Linked DNA regions of Homo sapiens. The protein of the gene in region 1 interacts with the protein of each later gene in a biochemical or structural test. Each region holds a gene or a part of one and is shown in the gene's direction. Other genes may lie near its edges. The genes, in order: LAT, FYN, ITK, GRB2, PLCG2, PTPN1 and SYK.

Evidence for each region.
Region 2: of the proteins of LAT (region 1) and FYN, one has a biochemical effect on the other in vitro, tested with the Homo sapiens proteins (one study listed by BioGRID and IntAct).
Region 3: of the proteins of LAT (region 1) and ITK, one has a biochemical effect on the other in vitro, tested with the Homo sapiens proteins (one study listed by BioGRID).
Region 4: the proteins of LAT (region 1) and GRB2 form a complex in vitro, tested with the Homo sapiens proteins (3 studies listed by BioGRID and IntAct, with this or other methods).
Region 5: the proteins of LAT (region 1) and PLCG2 interact in a biophysical measurement, tested with the Homo sapiens proteins (one study listed by IntAct).
Region 6: of the proteins of LAT (region 1) and PTPN1, one has a biochemical effect on the other in vitro, tested with the Homo sapiens proteins (one study listed by BioGRID and IntAct).
Region 7: of the proteins of LAT (region 1) and SYK, one has a biochemical effect on the other in vitro, tested with the Homo sapiens proteins (one study listed by BioGRID).

The regions. Positions count from the first base shown.
Region 1 is NC_000016.10:28,988,052-28,991,284, forward strand, and holds the end of LAT (linker for activation of T-cells family member 1), read left to right. Parts: intron 1-1,475; coding exon 1,476-1,538; intron 1,539-1,722; coding exon 1,723-1,788; intron 1,789-1,881; coding exon 1,882-1,961; 3' UTR 1,962-1,968; intron 1,969-2,137; 3' UTR 2,138-2,733; downstream 2,734-3,233. UniProt on the Homo sapiens protein: Required for TCR (T-cell antigen receptor)- and pre-TCR-mediated signaling, both in mature T-cells and during their development.
Region 2 is NC_000006.12:111,866,953-111,870,452, reverse strand, and holds part of FYN (tyrosine-protein kinase Fyn), read left to right. Parts: intron 1-3,500. UniProt on the Homo sapiens protein: Non-receptor tyrosine-protein kinase that plays a role in many biological processes including regulation of cell growth and survival, cell adhesion, integrin-mediated signaling, cytoskeletal remodeling, cell motility, immune response and axon guidance.
Region 3 is NC_000005.10:157,204,840-157,208,339, forward strand, and holds part of ITK (tyrosine-protein kinase ITK/TSK), read left to right. Parts: intron 1-3,500. UniProt on the Homo sapiens protein: Tyrosine kinase that plays an essential role in regulation of the adaptive immune response. Regulates the development, function and differentiation of conventional T-cells and nonconventional NKT-cells.
Region 4 is NC_000017.11:75,322,179-75,325,678, reverse strand, and holds part of GRB2 (growth factor receptor-bound protein 2), read left to right. Parts: intron 1-3,500. UniProt on the Homo sapiens protein: Non-enzymatic adapter protein that plays a pivotal role in precisely regulated signaling cascades from cell surface receptors to cellular responses, including signaling transduction and gene expression.
Region 5 is NC_000016.10:81,908,291-81,911,790, forward strand, and holds part of PLCG2 (1-phosphatidylinositol 4,5-bisphosphate phosphodiesterase gamma-2), read left to right. Parts: intron 1-125; coding exon 126-301; intron 302-2,229; coding exon 2,230-2,430; intron 2,431-3,500. UniProt on the Homo sapiens protein: The production of the second messenger molecules diacylglycerol (DAG) and inositol 1,4,5-trisphosphate (IP3) is mediated by activated phosphatidylinositol-specific phospholipase C enzymes. It is a crucial enzyme in transmembrane signaling.
Region 6 is NC_000020.11:50,579,883-50,583,382, forward strand, and holds part of PTPN1 (tyrosine-protein phosphatase non-receptor type 1), read left to right. Parts: coding exon 1-44; intron 45-1,382; coding exon 1,383-1,578; intron 1,579-2,809; coding exon 2,810-2,833; 3' UTR 2,834-3,500. UniProt on the Homo sapiens protein: Tyrosine-protein phosphatase which acts as a regulator of endoplasmic reticulum unfolded protein response. Mediates dephosphorylation of EIF2AK3/PERK; inactivating the protein kinase activity of EIF2AK3/PERK.
Region 7 is NC_000009.12:90,874,819-90,878,318, forward strand, and holds part of SYK (tyrosine-protein kinase SYK), read left to right. Parts: coding exon 1-31; intron 32-2,752; coding exon 2,753-2,962; intron 2,963-3,500. UniProt on the Homo sapiens protein: Non-receptor tyrosine kinase which mediates signal transduction downstream of a variety of transmembrane receptors including classical immunoreceptors like the B-cell receptor (BCR).

The DNA.
Region 1 (3,233 bases):
ACTGCACTCCAGCCTGGGTGACAGAGTGAGACCTTGTGTTAAAAAAAAAAAAAAAAGATAAAATAGCTAAGATTCACCGAGGGCCTCCTGCATGCCTTGCTAAGAGTCTGACATGTGTTCACTCACTAATCTGACTGCCCTGGGGCTCCCGGGCCTGCCCGCGCCCTCCTGTGCTCCAGTTGTCCCTTTTGTGGGATACAGGGTTTATCTGTTTAACAGCACTGCTGTGTGACAGGCCCTATTTTACAGAGGAGAAAACTGAGGCACAGAGAGGTAAGGTCCCTTGGCTGAGGTTATGTGGTTGGTTAGTGCTGGAGCTGGGATTGAACCGGGGCGGTCTTCAAAAACAAACAAGAAACACATAAAAGAACCAAATAGGCCGGGCACGGTGGCTCACACCTGTAATCCCAGCACTTTGGGAGGCCAAGGTGGGGGGATCACCTGAGGTCAGGAGTTCGAGACTGACCTGGCCAACATGGCGAAACCCAGTCTCTACTAAAAATACCAAAATTAGCAGGGCGTGGTGGCGGGCACCTGTAATCCCAGCTACTCAGGAGGCTGAGGCAGGAGAATTGCTAGAACCGGGAGGCAGAGGTTGCAGTGGGCCAAGATCACCCCACTGCCCTCCAGCCCTCTAGGTGACAGAGGGAGACTCCATCTCAAAAATAAATAAATAAACAAAATAAAAGAACCAAATAACCAGGCGTGGTAGCTGATGCCTGTGATCCCAGCACTTTGGGAGGCTGAGGCAGGTGGGTCACTTGAACCCAGGAGTTCAAGACCAGCCTGGGCAGCATAGGGAGACCCTATCTCTACAAAAATTCCAAAATTTAGCCTGGCCTGGTAGGAGCTGAGGTGGGAAGATCATCTGAGCCCAGGAGGTCAAGGTTGCGGTGAGCCGAGATTGCACCACTGCACTCCAGCCTGGGTAACAGAGCGAGACCCTGTCTCAAGAAAAACAAAAACAAACAAAAAGCTCCCAAATAACATGGATGGTGACAGGCGCCATGAAGGGCTGACATGGGAGTGAGACATAGGCAGTGGCTGGCAGGGGGCAGGTGGGGATGGGGGTCGGGGGGAGGAGGTGCCTGCTGGGCCTAGTGTGTCATGTCCCCTCCACACACGCCACCAAACTCCCACTGCTCCGAGCCGCACTACATCCCTGCTCCCCAGCCTAGGGGCTGTGCTGGGGCCTGACCCTTTGTGAGCTCTCCTCAGTCCCAGTCAAGTGGACCTCCTCCCTCCCTCTCCACAGCCCTTGCCCTTGTCCAGGCCACCATCACCATCACCAACACCATCCTTGCCAGCCTGGAGTCCCCTCTCTTCATTCTGTGGGGCTAATGGGGGTGGCTGTGTGGGAAGCCTCTGGGGTCTACCGTTGGGGAGCTCTGCATGGCTGAGGTTGGGGGTTCTCTGGGAACCTGTGGCCAAGGGTCTCTGGTCACAGTGCCGAGGTGGGCCTGGCTTTTCCACAGTGGAGTCCATTGATGATTACGTGAACGTTCCGGAGAGCGGGGAGAGCGCAGAAGCGTCTCTGGGTGAGTGACCGGTGCTTGTCGGTGCCTGCCCCTGCACCCCGCTGCCCCACCATGCTCTCAGTGTGACCAGATCCCACCCTGGGGCTACCCACACCCTCTGCCCCCTCTGTCTGGGCGTCCCCTTGCTCTCTCGCCCTCCTGACCCCTTTGCGTGGCTGCCCCTCCTTCTGATCTGTCCCCACAGATGGCAGCCGGGAGTATGTGAATGTGTCCCAGGAACTGCATCCTGGAGCGGCTAAGACTGAGCCTGGTGTGTTCTGCGGGAGGGGCAGGAGCTGGGGTAGCTGCTTTGGGCTTGGGGGGATAGCTTGCAAGCTGGAGACCAACCTCCCCTCCCTTACAGCCGCCCTGAGTTCCCAGGAGGCAGAGGAAGTGGAGGAAGAGGGGGCTCCAGATTACGAGAATCTGCAGGAGCTGAACTGAGGGCCTGGTGAGAGGCCTGCCCTGTCCCCACCCTGCCCTGGGCCCACAGGCTCTACTCCTTCCCTCCAGGACCCCCTTGCCCAACCCTACCTCTGGCTTGTCCCTCTGTCTCTGGGTACCTGCTGAACCCCGTCAGCCTCCTGATCCGTATCCCTCCCTGCCCTGGTGTGTTTCAGTGGAGGCCGAGTCTGTCCTGGAACCAGGCTTGCCTGGGACGGCTGAGCTGGGCAGCTGGAAGTGGCTCTGGGGTCCTCACATGGCGTCCTGCCCTTGCTCCAGCCTGACAACAGCCTGAGAAATCCCCCCGTAACTTATTATCACTTTGGGGTTCGGCCTGTGTCCCCCGAACGCTCTGCACCTTCTGACGCAGCCTGAGAATGACCTGCCCTGGCCCCAGCCCTACTCTGTGTAATAGAATAAAGGCCTGCGTGTGTCTGTGTTGAGCGTGCGTCTGTGTGTGCCTGTGTGCGAGTCTGAGTCAGAGATTTGGAGATGTCTCTGTGTGTTTGTGTGTATCTGTGGGTCTCCATCCTCCATGGGGGCTCAGCCAGGTGCTGTGACACCCCCCTTCTGAATGAAGCCTTCTGACCTGGGCTGGCACTGCTGGGGGTGAGGACACATTGCCCCATGAGACAGTCCCAGAACACGGCAGCTGCTGGCTGTGACAATGGTTTCACCATCCTTAGACCAAGGGATGGGACCTGATGACCTGGGAGGACTCTCTTAGTTCTTACCTTTTGTGGTTCTCAATAAAACAGAACTTAAAAAATTGTCTAAGTAACTGAAAAAGTTAATATGCAGCACAGCACTTTTGAGACTTTGATGGGTAGGTGACTCACCGGCAGACTTTGCTGTGGGGTGGGTTCTGACTCAGTTCGCCTAGGACGTGGCCTGAGACTTTGCATTTCTGAGCCTCTCCTGTGTGATTCTGATGCTGCTGTTCTGTGAACCTCATCCTGAGGAGCAAGGGCGTGGTGAGCATCTATTGCCTTTACTTGTCCGGGATCCATTTCCCCTTATTTTGGGAATTTCACCTTGGCTTTCCTCTGCAATTCACTCCTTTCCCAATCTCATTCCATGTAGTTTTAGAGATTGTGTGTTTGTTTTTTCTTTTTCCTTTTTTTTTTTTTTCTTTTTTTGAGATGGGGTCTCCCTCTGTCGCCAGGCTGGAGTGCAGTGGCGTGATCTTGGCTCACTGCAACCTCCGCCTCCTGGGTTCAAACAATTCTCCTGCCTCAGCCTCCTGAGTAGCTGGGATTACAGGCCCCCACT
Region 2 (3,500 bases), on another chromosome or scaffold:
CAGGTGTAACAAATAGGCCTGCAAATATATAATGGCTCAAAAGCAATAGACGTTTATTCTTGCTCATTTAATAGTCAAAAATTCATGTTTCTGGTCGGTAGGTGGCTTTCCTCCATGCAGTGACTCTGGGTCCCACACCCCTATCTTGTAGCTCCACCATCCCATAGCTTATCATCGTAACCTGTTTCAGTTTACAGAAGGGGCAACAGAGAGTAGACGGGGCACACCCACTTTTAAAATACCTTAGCCTGGAAGTGCCACCATCACTTCCTCTCACATTCTTTACTTGAGGGCTAGTTATATGGCCACATTTAATTGCAAGGGAGCCTGGGAAATGTAGTTTAGCCATGTGCTCAGAAAAAAGATACAGAATAAATGTATTTTTATTGAACAGCTTTGTCAAACACTGCCACTTATCAAGGCACATTCACTGCCCTCAAGAAACTTATAGGCTAATGGGAATTAAATAGAAACCTAGAGCGGACACCCGTCATTGCTTTTCTTTTGATTTTATAAGTTTAGATCTTTTCATCCTAAGCATGTTTCAAAAATCTTACTTTTTGTCATGTTTCAAATTTTATGTTTCAAATGTTGCCAATTCCTACTCAATAATCCCATGTGATACAATCATCTGATGCTTCCTGTGTTGACTTTGATGTGGTTCTTTTACTCCAAAAGCACCTTTCTTGGCTTCATTTTTCATCTGGTCATTCTGTAGACTCCCAAAGTTGCTAGGAGAGTCCTTAGAAATCACACTCCTTCTGGATGTTGCAGCTCACGCCTGTAATCCCAGCACTTTGGGAGGCTGAGGTGGGTGGATCACTTTAGCCCAAGAGTTTGTTATCAGCCTGGGCAACATAGTGAGACCTCGTCTCCACGAAAAATCTTTTAAAAACTATCCAGGCATGGTAGCATGCATCTGTGGTCCCAGCTACTCAAGAGGCTGAGGTGGGAGGATCACTTGAGCCTGGGAGGTAGAGACTGCAGTGAGCTGAGGTCATACCACTGTACTCTAGCCTGGGCTCCAGAGTGAGACCCTATCTCAAAAAGAAAAACAGAAATCACAGTCCCACTCCCTCTTAATTGGAAGAGGAAATTAATTAGCCTGAGAGGTGAAACTCCTTGCCCCAAGGCCTTGCAGCTTCTTAACGGAAGGGCAGGAGGCTCAGCCAGCCAGCTCTTCAGGCCCACATGGGTCTCCTCTGTCACTCAGCTGCCCTCTTTGTCTGTGAGTCTTGCATATTCCACGGAGGTTAAGTGAGCTTCCAAATCTCCATGAGCAGGGTTCTAGTGTTCTGGGTAGTCCCTGTTCTCCACAGGCTTCCAAATTGTTGGAGCAATTCCATTCATACCAGCCATCATAATTGTTAATGCACTTTTTTTTGCCATGAATACTTCATTATATTCATCTGTTCTGCAGACATTAGCCTAGTATGTTACTTTGTGCAAGGCACTGGGGAGATGAGGTCCTGGAAATGAATACTTCTGCTGTCCTTGCTTTTCAGAAGTTCACGGTCTACTAGAAGAGATAAAAATAATTAATAATTGTTAACATTTGTTGAGCATTTACTATATGCCAAGCACTGTTTAAGCTCCGATCTTAACAATAATAATATGAAGTGGTTTCACTTATAATCTCCGTTTTACAGATGGGAAATTGAAGCAAACTTTAGTAGCTTGTTAAGTAACTAATTCAAGATCATACAGCTACTAAGTGGTAGAGTCAGGATTCAGGTCCAATTAGTTTGGTTCCAAAGCCTTTGCCCTTAGCCACTAGGTAATATTCAAAATACTACATATAATGATGATATTAAAATACGTTATGTGCCATAAGGGAGGGTGACTGAAATGCTTTAGAAACTAAGACTTTTGGTTGATGAGAAATATAATTTTATAGCCAAATAGAAATACAATATTCATCCCTACCCTCCTTCCATTCAGACACTTATCTACTACTTACCTGGGAAATACAAAATTAAATTAAACAATGGTAAAGCAAGGCATGTCGATACTGGAAATAATTTTACTCTGTGTGATTATTTAAAGCTGGGTCTTTCTGTGGTACACAATTAGGTCTGTATAAGTTTATGAATTGTCTACATACTTACTCATTTAACAGCATTCATTCATTGCGTATTCTATTTGCCAGACAATTAATTCGATGGTTCAAGGCAAAAGAGATGTGATCCTGTCCCGAAGGAACTTACTTGCTAGTTTTGCAGAGCTATAAAGGAGTCTCTGACCAATGTTAGAAATGCTGGGATTTTAGGGGTCCATGTAGGATGGCAGAGAGTGTGCAGAATGGAGCATGAACCTGGAAAAGAGGTGGGCAAGTGGGATAGCCAAGCAGAGAAGGCTGGAAGAGGAGGGGTCTGAAGGCAAGATGAGTAGAGATGGCTAGGTGAGTGTTGTGGGAAGCTCCCTGTCCCAGAAAGAACAGCCCAGAGGGCGAATGCACAGACCTTTTGGGGAACTGCAGTTAGTTCAGGGCTGTTTGGAGTGGTACAGAGATGGACAAAGGGAAATGACAGAGCTGAAGGAGAAACTGAGAAAGATTCTTGTACGTACTTTATCCTGAGTGCCATTTAAGAGTTGTAAGTGGAGATGTGGCTTTGATGTGATTGTATTTTTATAAAGATCTGGCCACAGTATGGGCCTTTGACCGAGGGCAGGCAGAACTAATGCAGGGAAGGTAGTTATGGAAACTTAAATGAGTAGTAGATGAGGGTCTAAATGGAAGGAAAGGAGGTGCAGATGGAGCAAAAAAGAATTAGAGAGCAGTAGACAGGGTGTAGGGGTAGGTAGAAAAGAATTTCTCTGGGAAATTAGGTAGAGACAAGCAGTCCAATAAGGAAAGCAGGGGGCAGGTATCTAAGCGATGACTTTATCTTAAACACTTTAGACTTCCAGGTGTAGTAGCTCATAGGCAGGTAAATAGAGAGGTCTGGAGTGAGGGAAGAGGACTAGGTCTTTTTTTTTTTTTTTTTTTTTTTTCCCGAGACGGAGTTTCGCTCTTGTTGCCCAGGCTAGAGTGCAATGGCGTGATCTCAGCTCACTGCAACCTCCACCTCCCAGGTTCAAGCGATTCTCCTGCCTCAGCCTCCCGAGTAGCTGGGATTACAGGCACCCAACGCCACACCCGGCTAATTATTGGGGTTTCGCCACGTTGGCCAGGCTGGTCTCGAACTTCTGATTGCAGGGGATCTACCTACCTCAGCTTCCCAAAGTGCTGAGATAATAGGCATGAGCCACTGCTCCCAGCCAGGACTAGGTCTTGAATATAAATTCGTTAGCAAACAAATTACAAAAATTGAAGCCATGGATGTGGGTGAGGTCACCCAGGGAGAATGTGTGGAGTAGAAAGAGCAGAAAGGGCAGAGAGCAAGCCCAGGAACAGAGGAGGAGTCAGGCCCAGAATGGGAGAGGAGCCTGCGGAGTACTAGACCAGCTTCAGAGTTGAGCAACATAAAGAACAAAAAATGCAGTTGGATTTAGCACTG
Region 3 (3,500 bases), on another chromosome or scaffold:
AAAAAACTAAAAACCAGACACCACAAAGCTTTCCTGTATTTGATAGGGTCTGCTTCTCGCATCTTGAATTTTTTTTATCTCAGTTCTGTTCCTCAGCTACTAAATCAAAGATCAGCTTCCGGGCTGAGGACCCAAAAACAGGAAGTAAAGACTGAATTCACTTTGGGAGAATTTGATGATGTAATGGGTCCCTGGATATCAACCAAGCACGCTCATATATCACAAATCTCTTGCGATAGTTAAGGCTTCCTTAACTTCTTTAATTGGGAAGATACCCTTTATTGAGGGCATCTGTTATAAGCCAGTTAATTTGTTGACATCATCCTATTTTATTCCCCAATCAACTCTCAAAAGGTAGGTATTATCCCCACTTATCAGATGTAAAAACCAGGGTTCTGGGAAGTTTAATGAATTGCCCAAAGTCACAGAGCTCTTATAGTAAGAGGCAGAGACCTACTTTAAACATAGCTTTCCCAAACGTGTGCTCATTTCACCATCATTTGCTACCTCCTTAAAAAAATAAGGTAGAATGGGGTTTGGGCCACAATCCTGAACACCATAATCCCAAATATTGAAATACAAAATGTAAAAATACCCAAAAATATAATTCTGGAAAAAATAATTTTAAAAACTTTTTTAAAAGACATTTGTTTACATTTTAAAGTGGATTTATTTGAGAAACATATGAAGACATGACGAAATGCTTCATAGGCCACCTTGTGCAATAAAATAGGCAATAATAATATACATATTTTTGCAAACATAAACACCCAAGTATACTAAGGACAGTCACATGGGTATAACAGTTATGAGCAGACAAACTATATTCCTAAAGAAATAGCTGGTATTCAAGGGGAACGCCTTCAGCTTTCGCCCATTCAGTATGATGTTGGCTGTAGTTTGTCATAGATGGCTCTTATTATTTTGACGTACGTTCCTTTAATATCTAGTTTATTGATAGTTTTTAACATGAAGCAATGTTGAATTTTATTGAAAGCCTTTTCTGCATCTATTGAGATAATCGTGATTTCTGCCTTTAGTTCTATTTACGTGATGAATTACATTTATTGATTTGCATATGTTGAACCAACCTTGCATTCCTAAAGCCTACTTGATCATGTAAAAAAGGATTAGCCTTTTTTTTTTTTTTTTTTTTGAGTCAGTATTGCTCTGTCACCTATGCTGGAGTGCAGTGTCATGATCTTGGCTCACTGCAACTTCTGTCCACCTCAGCCTCCCGAGAAGCTGGGACTACAGGTGTGCACCACCATATCCAGTTAATTTTTGTAATTTTTTGTAGAAACAGAGTTTCACCACGTTTCCCAGGCTGGTCTCGAACCCCTGGGCTCAAGTGATCCACCCTCCTCAGCCTCCCAAAGTGCTAGGATTACAGGCATGAGCCACCACGCCTGGCTGGATTAGCTTTTCGATGTGCTGCTGGATTTGGTTTGCAAGTATTTTCTTGAGAATTTTTGCTTCGATGTTCATCAATATTGGCCTGAAGTTTTCTTTTTTGTTGTATCTCTGCCAGGTTTTGGTATCAGGATGATGCTGGCCTCATAGAATAAGTTGTGGGGGAGACGCTCCTCCTCAATTTCTTGGAATGGTTTCAGTAGGAATTACATTGGCTCTTCTTTGTACATCTGGTAGAATTCGGCTGTGAATCCATCTGGTCCCAGGCTTTTTTTGGGTGGTAGGCTATTTATTACTGATTCAATTTGGGAGTTTGTTATGGATTTGTTCAGGGAATTAATTTCCTCCTGGTTCAGTCTTGGGAGGGTGTATGTTGTCCAGGAATGGATTCATTTTTCTAGGTTTTCTAATATGTGTGCATAGAGGTGTTCATAGTAGTCTCTGATTATTTGTATTTCTGTGGGGTTAGTGGTAACATCCTCTTTGTCATTTCTAGTTGTGTTTAATTGGATCTTCCTTCTTTTCTTCTTTATGAGTATAGCTAGTGGCCTATCTATCCTATTAATTTTTTCAAAAAACCAACCCTTGGATTCATTGATCTTTTGAATAATTTTTTGTGTCTCAATCTCCTTTGGTTCAGCTCTGATTTTGGTTATTTCTTTTCCTGTATCTTAATTACAGAGATTATGACACAAATGTATACATTTGTCAAAACTCACTGAAATGTACATTGGTAAATTTTATTATATGTAAATTATACTTTAATAAAGCTGATTTTTAAAACAAAAAAACTAATATGCAATATATTTCACCTTTAAATTTTTTTAAAAAAGAAACAGCTTATATAACCATGGTCATCTGAAATGCTATGATAGACAACCTAAGTCTTTTAATGAGATTAATCAAAAACAGCAGAAGAAAATTCTGTCCCAACTCTCAGAGACAGACTAATTTGCCTTCAGTATTTGTTCTCTTAGGGTCCCTGGCTGATTCAATGGTGTCCACCAACACTGAGGGCAGATCTCCCCCACCTCGCCCATTCTGATACACATACTAGTCTACTCTGGAAACACCCTCACAGACACACCCCAAAATAATGCTTTATCACGTATCTAGATACGTCTCTTTTTTTTTTTTTTTTTTTTTTTTTTTGAGTCTTGCTCTGTCGCCCAGGCTGGAGTGCAATGGTGCGGTCTCCACTCACTGCAAGCTCCGCCTCCCGGATTCACGCCATTCTCCTGCCTCAGCCTCCAGAGTAGCTGGGATTATAGGCGCCCGCCACCACACCTGGCTAATTTTTGTATTTTTAGTAGAGGTGGGGTTTCACCATGTTGGGCAGGCTGTCTCGAACTCCTGATCTCAGGTGATCTTCCCGTGTCGGCCTCCCAAAGGGCTAGGATTACAGGCGTGAGCCACCATGTCCAGCCTTAGATACTCCTTAATCCAGTCAATTTGACACCTAAAATTAAGTCTACAAGTCCATCCCTTGTCTATTTGGCACCCATACATATCTTAAACCACACGTAATTTCCAAATGAAGACAATAACAAAGTAATAGTTCTGCCTAACAAGATGCAACTAACATAATGAGGCTATCCTGTGTACAACAGAAAATTCACTAATCGTGATTTTTGAGATTTTAGATGTTAAGGACTTAGACTTCAGGGATTTTTATCATTCAGGATTTCAGCATTCAGGACTATGACATTCAGAATCGTGTCTTTTGGGATTGATTGGTAGTGGGTATAATGACGTATTTTGCAACTGGTTCCATAGCTGAATTCCATAGCTGAATTCTCAATGGCAGCTCAATTCTAGGTACCTGTGAGAGGCTTCTTCCATCCAGAAGCACTTTCCTAACTATCTTTCCTTGGAGCCTGATAGACCACCAATGGAATTTGTTCCATTGGCTAAAGCATCAAATCCCCTGAGATCCATTCTCCAAGCACAAGGATCCTTAGAAATAGGTAACATGTAACATCATTATAAATCACAAATACCATCATGTGAATTAGTTATCAGGGAAATACAGCTAGCAAGTTTCCAAGGAAATGAGACACAGGCCCAGTAGTATTTGATGGGGAGGT
Region 4 (3,500 bases), on another chromosome or scaffold:
AGCAGCTCCCTGCAGCCAGCTGGAGCCTGCCAGTTTTCCCTAGTGCCCAGCACTCCTGAGCTTCTGCCCTCCAAGGGATTCCCGCAGCTCTCTCTAATGGGATAGTGGAGCGCCTGTCGGCTGCCTTGGCTTGCCTTGCTCAGGTCCACTGACTTAAATCAACCAGCCCCATCCTAGGCCCTCACAGTCACTTAAGAAGGCTGCTGCAGGGGATGTGGGGCTTGCATTTCCCCGGTGGAAAGTTCAGGTGTGAAAGGGAGCGGGTAAGCAGGGAATGGAGAAGACAGGAAGTTCTGCCGCCATGGAGAGTGTGGAGAATAGAAACCAGCACTTGAAGATTCTAAACAATTCACACCTCAGCTGTGAAGTCGGGATTTTGAATTAAATTGTTATTTCCATGTTTTTTACTTTCAGTTATTTTCTAGTTAATGTATTATCATAGGACCCTCCCCAGGAGTCCGGCAGATCACTTCATCAGTTATATATAAAGAAGTAATTAGATTCAACACTCAGATCACTACTTAGTTTAGATTACATTAAGATTGTTTTGTTTTTGAATGGGGGATAGAAAACCATTTTCCTTTTATTTTATTTACTTATTTTTGAGACAGAGTCTCGCTCTGTCCCCCAGGCTGGAGTCCAATGGCATGCCTCAGCTCACTGCAACCTCCACCTCCCAGGTTCAAGCAGTTCTCCCTGCCCCACCCTCCGAGTACCTGGGATTACAGGTGCCTGACACCACGCCCGGCTTATTTTTGTATTTTTAGTAGAGATGGGGTTTTGCCATATTGGCCAGGCTGGTCTTGAACTCCTGACCTCAGGTGATCCACCCACCTCGACCTCCCAAAGTGCTGGGATTACAGGCTGGAGCCACTGCTTCCAGCCACCATTTCCCATTTATAACTGATGTAAAGCGTGAGACTTTTCCATTTCAAAAATGAACTGACCAGCCTGGCCAACATGGTGAAACCCTGTTTCTGCTAAAAATAGAAAATAACCCAGGCATAGTGGCACACACCTGTAGTCCCAGCTACTTGGGAGGCTGAGGCCAGAGAATCATTTGAATCCAGGAGGCGGAGGTTGTAGTGAGGCGAGATGGCGCCATTGCACTTTAGCCTGGGCGAAGAGCAAAACTCTGTCTCCAAAAAAAAAAAAAAAAAAAAAAAAAAAACTGGGTGCGGTGGCTCACACCTGTAATCCCAGCACTTTGGGAGGCCGAGGCAGGCAGATCACCTGAGGTCAGAAGTTCGAGACCAGCCTGGCGAACATGGTAAAACCCTGTCTCTACTAAAAAAAAAAAAAAAAAAAAAAATACAAAAATGGCCTCGGCGTGGTGGCGTGTGCCTGTAATCCCAGCTACTCAGGAGGCTGAGAGAGAAGAATCACTTGAACCCGAGAGGCAGATGAGCCAAGATCGTGCCACTACACTCCAGCCTGAGTGACAGAGTAAGACTGTGTCTCCCAAAACAAACAAACAAACTGAATATCTTATTTGGTTTTAGAACCACTTAATGTGTGATTAAAATGTAGATTTTTTTTTTGAAACGTAGATTTTAAATTTATAGTTGTGGCCCGGCATGGTGGCTCATGCCTGTAATCCCAGCCCTTTAGGAGGCTGAGGCGGGCCGATCATGAGGTCAGGAGTTTGAGACCAGCCTGACCAATATGGTGAAACACTGTCCCTACTAAAAAAATACAAAAATTAGCCAGGCGTGGTGGCACATGCCTGTATTCCCAGCTACTCCGGAGGCTGAAGCAGGAGAATCACTTGAACCTAGGAGGCAGAGGTTGCAGTGAGCCGAGACTGAGCCATTGCATTCCAGCCTGGGTGAAAGAGCAAGACTCCATCCATCTTTAAAAAAAAAAAAAAAAGAAAAGAAAAACATGTGTGACACCTGTCTTTCTTTAGTTTTATACTGACCCAAGTGTAACTGAAACCTTATAAGATGAGGGGAACAAGCAGTAAATCACTGGGTGGTGGCCAAAACCACGGGGGCAGCCACGTGCTCGGCTGGACGCTGCCTGTTTGCTCAGCAGAAACTCTCAAACTTCCATTTTCTCAAGTAGAATCTTTTAAGGATTTAATGCATTTATTGTTTTAGAAGCAAAGCAGGTGTCATGACTCTCTTTAACAACACACACACCTCTGCAAAAAAGGTTCAAGAATCAACAGTTGTCAGATGTTTCTTAGTTTTAGGATGTTTTGAGCCTGTGATTTGAAACACTGCTCATTATTGGGGCCCTGGGCTCTTAGAAACCACCTGCATTGCATGGGTGGAAGTGGGCCTCTGTGGGGCCAGAAGTGCCGTGGAATATACCCTTGCTAATGAAGCTTTCTCACCTTCCACATTTTGTCTTAACATGTAAAGCAGTATTTTTTCCAAATGCGAGGCATCTTGTGCTGAGTGGCTTCCTTGAGGCTCAGTGCTGCCACCTGCCGGATTGATTTTCTGAAGCCTTTGGTTTCCATCAGCTGAAAGACTGAAGGAGAGGAGGGACTCATTCATTCATTGAACAAGCACTCTCAGAGAATGCCTTTTTTTTTTTTTTTTTTTTTAATGAGATGGAGTGTCACTCTGTCGCACAGGCTGGAGTACAGTGGCCCAATCTCGGCTCACTGCAAGCTCCTCCTCCCGGGTTCACACCATTCTCCTGCCTCAGCCTCCCGAGTAGCTGTGACTACAGGCATCTGCCACCACACCTGGCTAATTTTTTGTATTTTTAGTAGAGACGGGGTTTCACTGTGTTAGCCATGGTGGTCTCGATATCCTGACCTTATGATCCGCCCACCTCGGCCTCCCAAAGTGCTGGGATTACAGGCATGAGCCACCGCATCCGGCCGAGAATGCCGAGAGTGCCCGGCCAGGTGAACAGGACAGGCAGAAGCGCCCTCGCTAGGCTGGTGTTTTAGCCAAATATCCTGTGACAGACCCTGTGAGCTAGTACCAGCCAGCCACGCTGTTGCCGGTTTTGCTTGCCAGTATAAAAGGGTGTGATCTAGTGATGGAGAAGCTTTTGGGTTTTGAAGTCTGGGCCTCTTTTATTGTCCCAGTACGTCCTTTTGTTCAGAGACCTTTTCCCCATGAGTGGAGCTAAAATTCCTGAATGGAAAACATTACTTTGAACTATTCCCAGTTACGAGAGAATTGTTGAAAGTATTTCCAGCCCTCCTCACCTTCTTCCTGCATATAAGATTTTAATTATTTTTTTATTCAAAGGATGTTAAGTCACACTCCTTTGTCTTAAGTACGGCTGTTTTTATTTGGTAGGGTTCAGGGCACATGGACTCTTTTTTTTTTTTTTTTTGAGACAGAGTTTCACTCTTGTTACCCAGGTTGGAGTGCAATGGCGCGATCTCAGCTCACCACAACCTCGGCCTCCCAGGTTCAAGTGATTCTCCTGCCTCAGCCTCCCGAGTAGCTGGGATTACAGGCATGCACCATCATGCCCAGCTACTTTTGTATTTTTAGTAGAGATGGGATTTCTCCATGTTGGCCAGG
Region 5 (3,500 bases), about 53 Mb from region 1:
CCAGCTGAGGCTGGCCTCTCTATGTTATCTGGTACCCTGGGTCAGGGTGAGACAGAAGGACCTGTCTAGTGATGCTGGGGTTTGGTCCAAGGCTTTCAGAAACCCCTCCTCTCTTTGCGGCCCAGGATATACCCCCTACAGAACTACATTTTGGGGAGAAATGGTTCCACAAGAAGGTGGAGAAGAGGACGAGTGCCGAGAAGTTGCTGCAGGAATACTGCATGGAGACGGGGGGCAAGGATGGCACCTTCCTGGTTCGGGAGAGCGAGACCTTCCCCAATGACTACACCCTGTCCTTCTGGTAATGCCCCCGACCCAGGGAACGCCTACCTTCTTCTCCATGCCAACCGATGAGGCAGGGTGGCGAGTGGTTCTAGCTCAGGCAGGAATTGGGCAGGCTGGGACCTGAATCCCAGGCTTCATTTGTCTAGCTCTTCTAGGCCGGGACAAGGGTGAGGTGGGTATGACTCACTTCGGCACTGTAACCCAGATTAATGAGATTTCAGGGCAATCTTTTAAAAAATCAAAAGTAATGCAAAAAAGTCTGTGATGAACAAAATATGAACATTTTAAACAAAGACAAGATCTGACCCTACTCTTAGATGATGTGGTCTCACTCACTTTCCCCGATCCCAGCCCTGGAGTGGGTCATGTGGCTCTGGATGATTCAGCCAACCTTCTAGCATCTCTGTCTCCTCCATAAAACGAGGACTCTAGGGCTGTCCTTTTGAAGCCGTCATAGGCTGTGATGAGCTTGTGCATTCATTCATCCACCCACTTATCCATGTCTCAGTGCATTAAAAGATACTTCTTGAGGGCGTGCCCTGTGCTAGACACAGTACTTATGCCAGACAGACAATGTCTTTGTCCTCCTGGACACTAGCGTCTTTTGAAGGAGATGGGCAATGAAAAAGCAGTCACTCAAATGATTTGCAAGTATAGTTGTGATGAGTGCAATGAAACAAGGCAACATAAAGGGACATCCCTCCCTTTATTGGGGGGGTTTAATGTGAGTTGGGGGGATTTGTGAAAGTCTGTGAGGAAGGCTCTGATGCCCTGACGTGGGGAATGGTTAGGAAAACCTTCCTGAAAGAAGATGAGACCTGAAAGAGGGAAATTATAATTCTGTCACTTAAAAAAAAATTGTGATAGGGTCTTGCTCTGTTGCCTAGGCTGTAGTACAATGGAGCAGTCTCAGTCACTGCAGCCTCAAACTCCTGGGCTCAAGCAACCCTCCTATCTCAGCCATTTAAGTAGCTGGGACTACAGGCACATGCCACGACACCTGAATAACTTTTAAATTTTTTGTAGAGCTGGAGTCTCACTACGTTGCCCAGGCTGGTTTTGAACTCAGCTCAAGCAATCCTCTGGCTTCGGCCTCCTGAAGTGCTAGGATTACAGCTGTAAGCCATTGCACCTGGCTGAAAATTAGAATACTAATAACACGCAAATAATCCTGGACACCTAAATGATGCTTACCATGTGCTGGGCAGTATTCGAGACACCTTGTGTGTGTGGTCTCGTTTACTCTTCAGGATGCCTCTTTGAGGTGGATACTGTTATCATTCCTGTCAGACCGCTGGGGTAGTAATACAGTGTGGCTCAGACAGCACGGGTGACCTGCTCCAGGACACTTGGTTCATATGTGGCAGAGCTGGGATTTGAATCCAGGCATCCTGGCTCTAGAGAAGCAGTTATATATATAAAAGGGGGATGGGGTGGGGTGGGGTGGGGGAAGTAGGTAGAATGTTCTGGAATCCAGGCTGAGGGTCTAGCCTATACTAAGGCCCTGCATCTGGTTTTGTTGTTGTTGTTGTTGAGATGGAGTCTCGCTCTGTCGCCCAGGCTGGAGTGCAGTGGCGTGATCTCGGCTCACTGCAACCTTCGTCTCCCAGGTACAAGTGATTCTCTTGCCTCAGCCTCCCAAGTAGCTGGGATTACAGGCATGCACCACCATGCCCAGCTAATTTTTGTATTTTTAGTAGAGACGAGATTTCACTGTATTGGCCAGGCTGGTCTGGAACTCCTAATCTCAGGTGATCCACCCGTCTCGGCCTCCCAAAGTGCTGGGATTACAGGCATGAGCCACTGCGCCCAGCCTCCTGTGTCTGTTCTAGGAGCAGAGGGAAGGTTGTGTGGCCACATGTAATGTCCCCGCCTCTGAGGCCCTGGCTGCCGCAATGGCCTGGCCTGCGTTCTCCCAGCACTGATGGCGTCCTCTCCCCGCAGGCGGTCAGGCCGGGTCCAGCACTGCCGGATCCGCTCCACCATGGAGGGCGGGACCCTGAAATACTACTTGACTGACAACCTCACCTTCAGCAGCATCTATGCCCTCATCCAGCACTACCGCGAGACGCACCTGCGCTGCGCCGAGTTCGAGCTGCGGCTCACGGACCCTGTGCCCAACCCCAACCCCCACGAGTCCAAGCCGTACGTGTCTGAGGGTGGAGCAGGAGGCAGGCGGTGGTCGGGTTAGCTCCACCAGGCAGAGAAGCTGGCCTGGTGGTTCAGCCGGGCCAGTCCCCCAGGACACCCTCTCCCCAGCCCACCGGCATCTCAAAATTGCCGAGGTGGCCAGTTTCCAAATTCCTGGCACCATGACCTGTGTCCTTTTCTCTTTTCTTTCTTTCCTCCCCTTTTCTCTTTTCCCTTTCTTCTACTTTGTCTTCATAGCCCCGAGACTTTGGGCTTTGATTTTCAGAGGGTCATTTTGGCCTGGGGATATTCTCTTACCTTTCAGAGCTCCTTCCTGTTTGTTCTGAAAATGAACAAGGAAACAATGATTATAAGAGTCTCCCGCTGATTTTTTTTATCTAGTGAAATGAGTATCAAGGTAGGTCTTGCGAAGGGTCAACAAATTCTGGGAATAAAGAAAAAACAATTTTTAGGCAGAAAGCTGCAAAAATGTCCATTTCCGAGGAGGCCGTATTACTTATAGCAACTTTTTTTTTCACTTTTTCTGTCACATTTTCCTATGGATTGCCTCTTAAAACTTGCTATTTCTTATCTTAAGAAATAACCCGAAAACAACCCAAAACCTTGTGAAACTCCTGCTGTGATCTCCGTCTTCGATTTTCTGAGACACGTGGCAATAACTGTGCCTCCCTGGGAGCCTGGCTTTTCAGGTTTGGGCTGCTTGGGTGGATGAAGATGAATCAATTTTTTGAGACAAGGTGTTGCTCTGTTGCCCAGGCTGGAGTGCAGTGGAACAATCACGTCTCGCAGCAGCCTCGAGCTCCTGGGCTCAAGTGATCCTCCCACCTCAGCCTCCTATCTGGGACTGCAGGTGTGTGCCACTGTGCCCAGCTAATTAATTAATTAATTAATTAATTAATTTTGAGACCGGGTCTCGCTCTGTCTCCCAGGCTGGAGTGCAATGGCACGATCTCAGCTCACTGCAACCTCTGCCTCCCAGGTTCAAGAGATTCTTGTGCCTCAGCCTCCTGAGTAGCTGGTATTATAGGCGCACGCCACTGGGCCTGGCTAATTTTTGTATTTCC
Region 6 (3,500 bases), on another chromosome or scaffold:
GAAAAAGGAAGCCCCTTAAATGCCGCACCCTACGGCATCGAAAGGTAATATGATTGGGTCCCAGCTTGTTGGGGTGAGGGGAAATGACTTTCTGTTCTAGAAACACACGCTGGTACTGAAACCCTGTGGATGCAGCCTCCTGTTGGCAAGCAGCGCTTCCGCATCCTTGGGGAACAGGGCGCGTGGACCACAGCCACTCCACTCCTGGCTGCTGGAGGTCCGGTATTGGGCACAGGGTGGCCGCAGGACATGAGCCACTTCTGTGGGCTTCTAGTGCCACCTTGTGGTGCTTGTTGGAATGAGGGGCTCGGAGCCACCGAGTAGGGTTTTTCTGCCCCCCCTGACGACAGCGCCCTCCCCCAGGTTTCCGGACAGTCCTGAAATGTGATGTCCAGGCTTGAGTGCCCTCAGTCCCCACAGTGGTCCTTTGGGGAATGTAACCTTTTTTATGTGGTCTTGATTAAATCCCATTTTACTTCCTTGCAGGTTAACAACCATTATTGAGTACCTATTGATATGTGTGGTGTACTGAGTTAACTAGAACATGTCCCCTGGTCTGTGTTCTAGACCATCTTGCTGGGAAAAAGGCAGACCCAAAGCATATTTTGGTGGGGGCCCATGGACAGTGATGTGATAGAGGTGTCCGCTGAGGTGGTCAGGGAAGGCTGCTTGCAGTAGGTGGCCGTGCACGGAAAGTTTGCAGAATGAGCAGGTGTTAGTTCCAGCTGGAGATGACTGCCGGCTGTGCCCTTGGTACCTGCTTTCTGGAGGGAAGTTTTAAGACGTGTGCATACTTGACCCAGCAGTTGTATACATGGAGAAATTTACTTTGCAGCAACTCTCAAAACAAGCGTGTAAAGATGTGTATAGGTAGTTGTGTTTGTTGTGGCATTGTTTGTAGTAGTGAAAAATTAGAGACAGGCCAATGATATAACCAGGGACCTGATCAATTATGTTCTCTCCCGGTGTTGGGATATTCTGTAGCTCTTAAAGAATGAGATCTGGGTGTACTGATGTGGCCAGACATTGCAATTGCAGTACATGAGAAGGCAAATCATACAGTAGTGTGTACACCAGTGAGTCCTCCAGCCAGATAAATCCTCACAGTGACCAGTCGCCCAGGCACCTTGTGAACCCTACCCTGGGTGTGGGTGCTATCTGAAGTACCTGGGGGAGGGGGTGACAAGTGGACTTCAGGCTGATGTGGGCCCTGGCCTGGCCCTCCCTCCAAGCAGAGGGGGCTGGCTCGCTGGAAGGTTAACATCATCCAACTCTGTCTACACGTGGCTTGTTTTTTCCTAGAATTCCTGCCACAATAGCAGCATCCTTGCCATTCATTTTCTCCAAAGTGAGTAACCCATCTCTGCCCTCTGATTCCTCAGCATGAGTCAAGACACTGAAGTTAGAAGTCGGGTCGTGGGGGGAAGTCTTCGAGGTGCCCAGGCTGCCTCCCCAGCCAAAGGGGAGCCGTCACTGCCCGAGAAGGACGAGGACCATGCACTGAGTTACTGGAAGCCCTTCCTGGTCAACATGTGCGTGGCTACGGTCCTCACGGCCGGCGCTTACCTCTGCTACAGGGTATGTTTCCACTGACAGACGCGCTGGCGAGATGCTCGTGTGCAGAGAGCACTGGCCGCTAGCCCGATGGTAGGATTCAGTTCTGTGGTGCATCTGAGCCAGTCTCAGAAGAAACAGATCAAAGGTTTTTAAAGTCTGGAACTGTGGAAGGGCTAACAAGAGAATTAAGGATCGATGCACTGGGGTTTTAAGGAGCCCTCTGGTCCCAAGAATATAAGAGTCTAATCTCAGGGCCTTAACCTATTCAGGAGTAAGTAGAGAAAATGCCAAATACGTCTGTTTCTCTCTCTCTTTTTTTTTTTATTCCTTTGTTTTTGGAAAAAAATAGAGTTACAACACATTGTTGTTTTTAACCTTTATAAAAAGCAGCTTTTTGTTATTTCTGGAACAAAAAAAAACAAAGTAGGCACTTATGAAACTTTCTCATACCCTTAGGTGATGTAATCAGCCATATAATTTATATTTGATTTCCCAGGGAAGGAATCCCAAACTTTTACGAATGTAAACTCCCTTGGAGAAGAGGGTTAGGACGCTGTTGCGCTCAAGCCCCCCTCAGCTGTGTGCACACTGAGCCAGGACAGGGTCTTTGAGCTTTCCCACTATAAGAAGAACAGCAACAAAAGGCCGTCTAGAAAAACAGAACCTGCCTCTGCTTCTGCTCAGGGTGTCCCCGCTGGGTTTCCATTGTCCTTTCTCCATTGCTCCCTCCTGTGACAGCCATCTTGCTCATGTACCAGCCCTCATCACCCCATCCCCATAAATGGGTGTCCTCGAGGCCTCTGCCTGGGGGTCAGAGGTCACCACAGGGTGGCCATTGGCATGTCAACCCGCTGTTAATTCAGAGAAGTGGGCTCCACCTCATTGGGAGAAGTGCCATTTCAGCAGAAATTCACACGTTAGACGTGTGTTGCTGTTAAGTAAGGGGAAGAGAGAGGACTAGCCTCAGAGCTCTGGCCATGGAAATGACCTCCTAAGACTTTTTCGTGGTTTTAAATATTTTACCTCTTTCCAGGTGGCATCTGAGTACATCAGATGGTTTTGCAAAATGCAAACAATTTTTTCCTTGGGGATGATTTTTGGGGAGAGGGGGCTACTGTAAAAAATAAAACCAAAACCCCCTTTGCTCCCTCGGAGGTTGAAGTTGCCGGGGGGTGTGGCCGGGGTCATGCATGAGGCGACAGCTCTGCAGGTGCGGGTCTGGGCTCATCTGAACTGTTTGGTTTCATTCCAGTTCCTGTTCAACAGCAACACATAGCCTGACCCTCCTCCACTCCACCTCCACCCACTGTCCGCCTCTGCCCGCAGAGCCCACGCCCGACTAGCAGGCATGCCGCGGTAGGTAAGGGCCGCCGGACCGCGTAGAGAGCCGGGCCCCGGACGGACGTTGGTTCTGCACTAAAACCCATCTTCCCCGGATGTGTGTCTCACCCCTCATCCTTTTACTTTTTGCCCCTTCCACTTTGAGTACCAAATCCACAAGCCATTTTTTGAGGAGAGTGAAAGAGAGTACCATGCTGGCGGCGCAGAGGGAAGGGGCCTACACCCGTCTTGGGGCTCGCCCCACCCAGGGCTCCCTCCTGGAGCATCCCAGGCGGGCGGCACGCCAACAGCCCCCCCCTTGAATCTGCAGGGAGCAACTCTCCACTCCATATTTATTTAAACAATTTTTTCCCCAAAGGCATCCATAGTGCACTAGCATTTTCTTGAACCAATAATGTATTAAAATTTTTTGATGTCAGCCTTGCATCAAGGGCTTTATCAAAAAGTACAATAATAAATCCTCAGGTAGTACTGGGAATGGAAGGCTTTGCCATGGGCCTGCTGCGTCAGACCAGTACTGGGAAGGAGGACGGTTGTAAGCAGTTGTTATTTAGTGATATTGTGGGTAACGTGAGAAGATAGAACAATGCTATAATATATAA
Region 7 (3,500 bases), on another chromosome or scaffold:
CTGTGAAAAAGGGCTACTACCAAATGAAAAAGTAAGTTGCTATGTTCCACCAGCCTCACCCTCACATGAGCTCAGGTTCTAGACATGACTGAGAATAACAAAATGTAACCTGGCATGACTAAACCCTTTTTTTATTAATGCTACCATTCTTGTTAATTTCTGGTACTATTATAATGAAAGCGTCCATTACCTTTAATGGCAAAAACTGCAATTACTTTTGCACCAACCTAATAGTACATGCACCTTATGGAAAATTAGGAAATAGAAACAAGCAGAAACATAAGAAAATAAAAACATCAAATTGGCATGGTGGCTCATGCCTGTAATCTTAGCAATTTGGGAGGCTGGGATAGGAGGATTGTTTGAGGCCTGGAGCTTGAGACCAGCCTGGGCAACATAGCAAGACCCTGTCTCTACAAAAAAAATAAATAAATAAATAAATAAATAAAACATAAAAAATTAGCCAGACATAGTAGTGCACACATATACTTCCAGCTGCTCAAGAGGCCAAGAAGCCAAGGCTGCAGTGAGCCATGATTGCACCACTGCACTCTAGCCTGGGTAACAAAGCAAGGCCCTGTTTCAAAAAACAAAACAAAAAAAAGAAAAGAAGAACATCATATTTGTATAATACCATCCCAACACTACTACTGTTAACTAAACATTACTACTGTTAACTTAATCTTATTGTATATATTTTTAGATCTTTATTTGTACACACAGATATTATTTAATTAAAACAAAATCATTCCATTATAACAATAGTTTTTACATTTATTTTCTTTAATTTTATAGTTACATCTCATTTTTCTTACATGAAAATTATTGATTCCAAATATGATTAGTATAATTATTTATTGGCTTTATCCTATGATTTCAGATAACAATACATATTATACAACAGTTAAAATTGCTAAATTTCGAAAATATCTTTGTATTTCTTTTGGTCTTTAGAAGGTACCCAACATAGAATGTACAAGTAAAACTACTGGTTTCTAAAGTCCTTTGAAATACACCCTCTGTTTGAATTGGTATGATACTAATATGAATGTGGTTAGATTTAGTAGCTTCATGGTATTTCAAATGTAAGGGATTTTTGTAAAAAAAAAATTCGTGAGTAGGTAATTTTTATGATTCAAGGGTTAAAAATATAGACAAAAATATACACAGACATGCGTGCTTTCCGGCCGGGTGCCGTGGCTCATGCCTATAATCCCAGCACTTTGGGAGGCCAAGGTAGGTGGATCACCTGAGGTCTGGAGTTCAAGACCATCCTGGCCAACATGGTAAAACCTCGTCTCCACTAAAAATACAAAAAATTAGCTGGGTGTGGTGGCATACACCTGTAGTCCCAACTACTTAGGAGGCTGAGGCAGGAGAATCACTTGAACCTGGGAGGAAGAGGTTGCAGCCAGCCAAGATCACACCATTGCACTCCAGCCTGGGCAACAAGAGTGAAACTCTGCCTCAAAAAAAAAAAAAAAAAAAGAAAGAAAGAAAAAAGAAATGCTTGCTTTCCAATCTGTCCCTTCGATTTGTTTTTGTGCATGTGTGTGTGTGTAAATTAGATACACATACATGTATGTATACACACACAAACATACACACATATGTATACATTCACAAGTATATACATGCGCACATATATACACACACAATCAAAATTGGCTGTGATACTTATTTTAAAATATATGTTTGTATATCACAGTCATTTTGTACAATGAGTAAAAATGTTTCTGTATTAATCCTAAGCTTTTTCAGATTATGAAAGGTTGTGATCTTTATTCTGTGCTTAAATTTGTGAATTAACATAGACATGACTGTGGACATAATTTCAACTAGAGAATTTGGGGAGAGGAGAGGCTCTCTCGGTCAATTTGGGGCAAAATGATGTCTTTACAATACTGAGTCTTTCAATCTATAAACACAGCCCATCTCTCCATTTACCAGGTCTTCTTCAGCCTCTCTCAGGAGAGTTGTTTACCTTTTCAATGTATTACATTGAAATATATGCTTTTAAATTCTGCACCTAGAAATTCACTTTCAACAATTATGAAAGGCATTTTATATTCACATTCATTACATGTAATCTGAGATGGTGAATCCCAAGATGTTACAGGAATTCGTACATGTCATCGTTGGTGAAGTTTATTTACAAGTTATTTAAATATTTTACAGTTTAGGGTTTTTGCTTGGTTGGGACATTCTTCAGTACTGTTCTTCACCATTCTTTTTATTTTATATTATTTTTTAGAAACAGTGTTTCACTGTGTCACCCAGGCTGGAGTGAAGTGGCAAGAAGCTCACTGCAGCCTTGAACTCCTGAGTCCAAGTGATTCTCCCACCTCAGCCTCCCGAGCAGCTGGGACTACAGGCTTGCACTGTCACACCTGGGTGATTTTTTTTAGAGATGGGGGTCTCACTATGTTGCCCAGGCTGACCTTGAACTTCTGACCTCAAGCAATCCTCCCCTTTCAACCTCCCAAAGTATGGGGATTGTCAGCATGAGCCACCATGCCCAGCCCCCACCATTCTTTTTTAGTAATGGAGTATTACTCTCATTGTCTATAAAATAAGGGAATATAGGTTGGAAGGCCAGCCATCCATTACAGGCTTCTGAAGACACATTGCCACTCTGTGGCAGGTATTTCCGTGGGACTGTTTCCACAGGGGGATTATGCTTCACAGGATAAGATTATCTAGAAGTGAGGCATTTTGGAAAGTTTCTTGTGTGTTATGATTTCTCTTGCAGAGTTGTGAAAACCGTGGCTGTGAAAATACTGAAAAACGAGGCCAATGACCCCGCTCTTAAAGATGAGTTATTAGCAGAAGCAAATGTCATGCAGCAGCTGGACAACCCGTACATCGTGCGGATGATCGGGATATGCGAGGCCGAGTCCTGGATGCTGGTTATGGAGATGGCAGAACTTGGTCCCCTCAATAAGTATTTGCAGCAGAACAGGTATTGTCAGGTGCCCCCACACATCTGGAAGCTATCCCCTAAGGGACAGGGCCCACCCCTGGATGGGCCGAGCAGCCTGATTTCCTTGGGAAGCCTTCCCACCCTCCTGTGCCTTCCTTTATTGGTCCATACTCAGGGACCTTGACAGAGGGACAGGGAGACATAGTCTTTGGATTCAGCTCTGTTAGCTCTAGTTGTTCAGAGAAGAACTCATTTGACAGTTTTGTCTTTTTTTTCTTCCTGTAGTCATTCAGTCTTGGCCTAGTGATAGACTCAGCCTCAGAATATCTTGACATGGAATCTCCTTTCTCACTGGGAAGAACACTTTCTTTTTAAAGAAACATTTTAAATAAATGCTTTTCTAAGAGGTGACAGTTAAGTCTTATCTGTTTGGCTGACCTTATGTTCTCATGAGTGATGACTTCTGAAAATACCAATCACTGCTAATTGATTACATCCATCAAGGGAGTAATTGTGTTCTTCTCATCTAAAGCTGTTGTTGAGATGAAGAAACTCACTTGGAGTAAGACAGAATGAT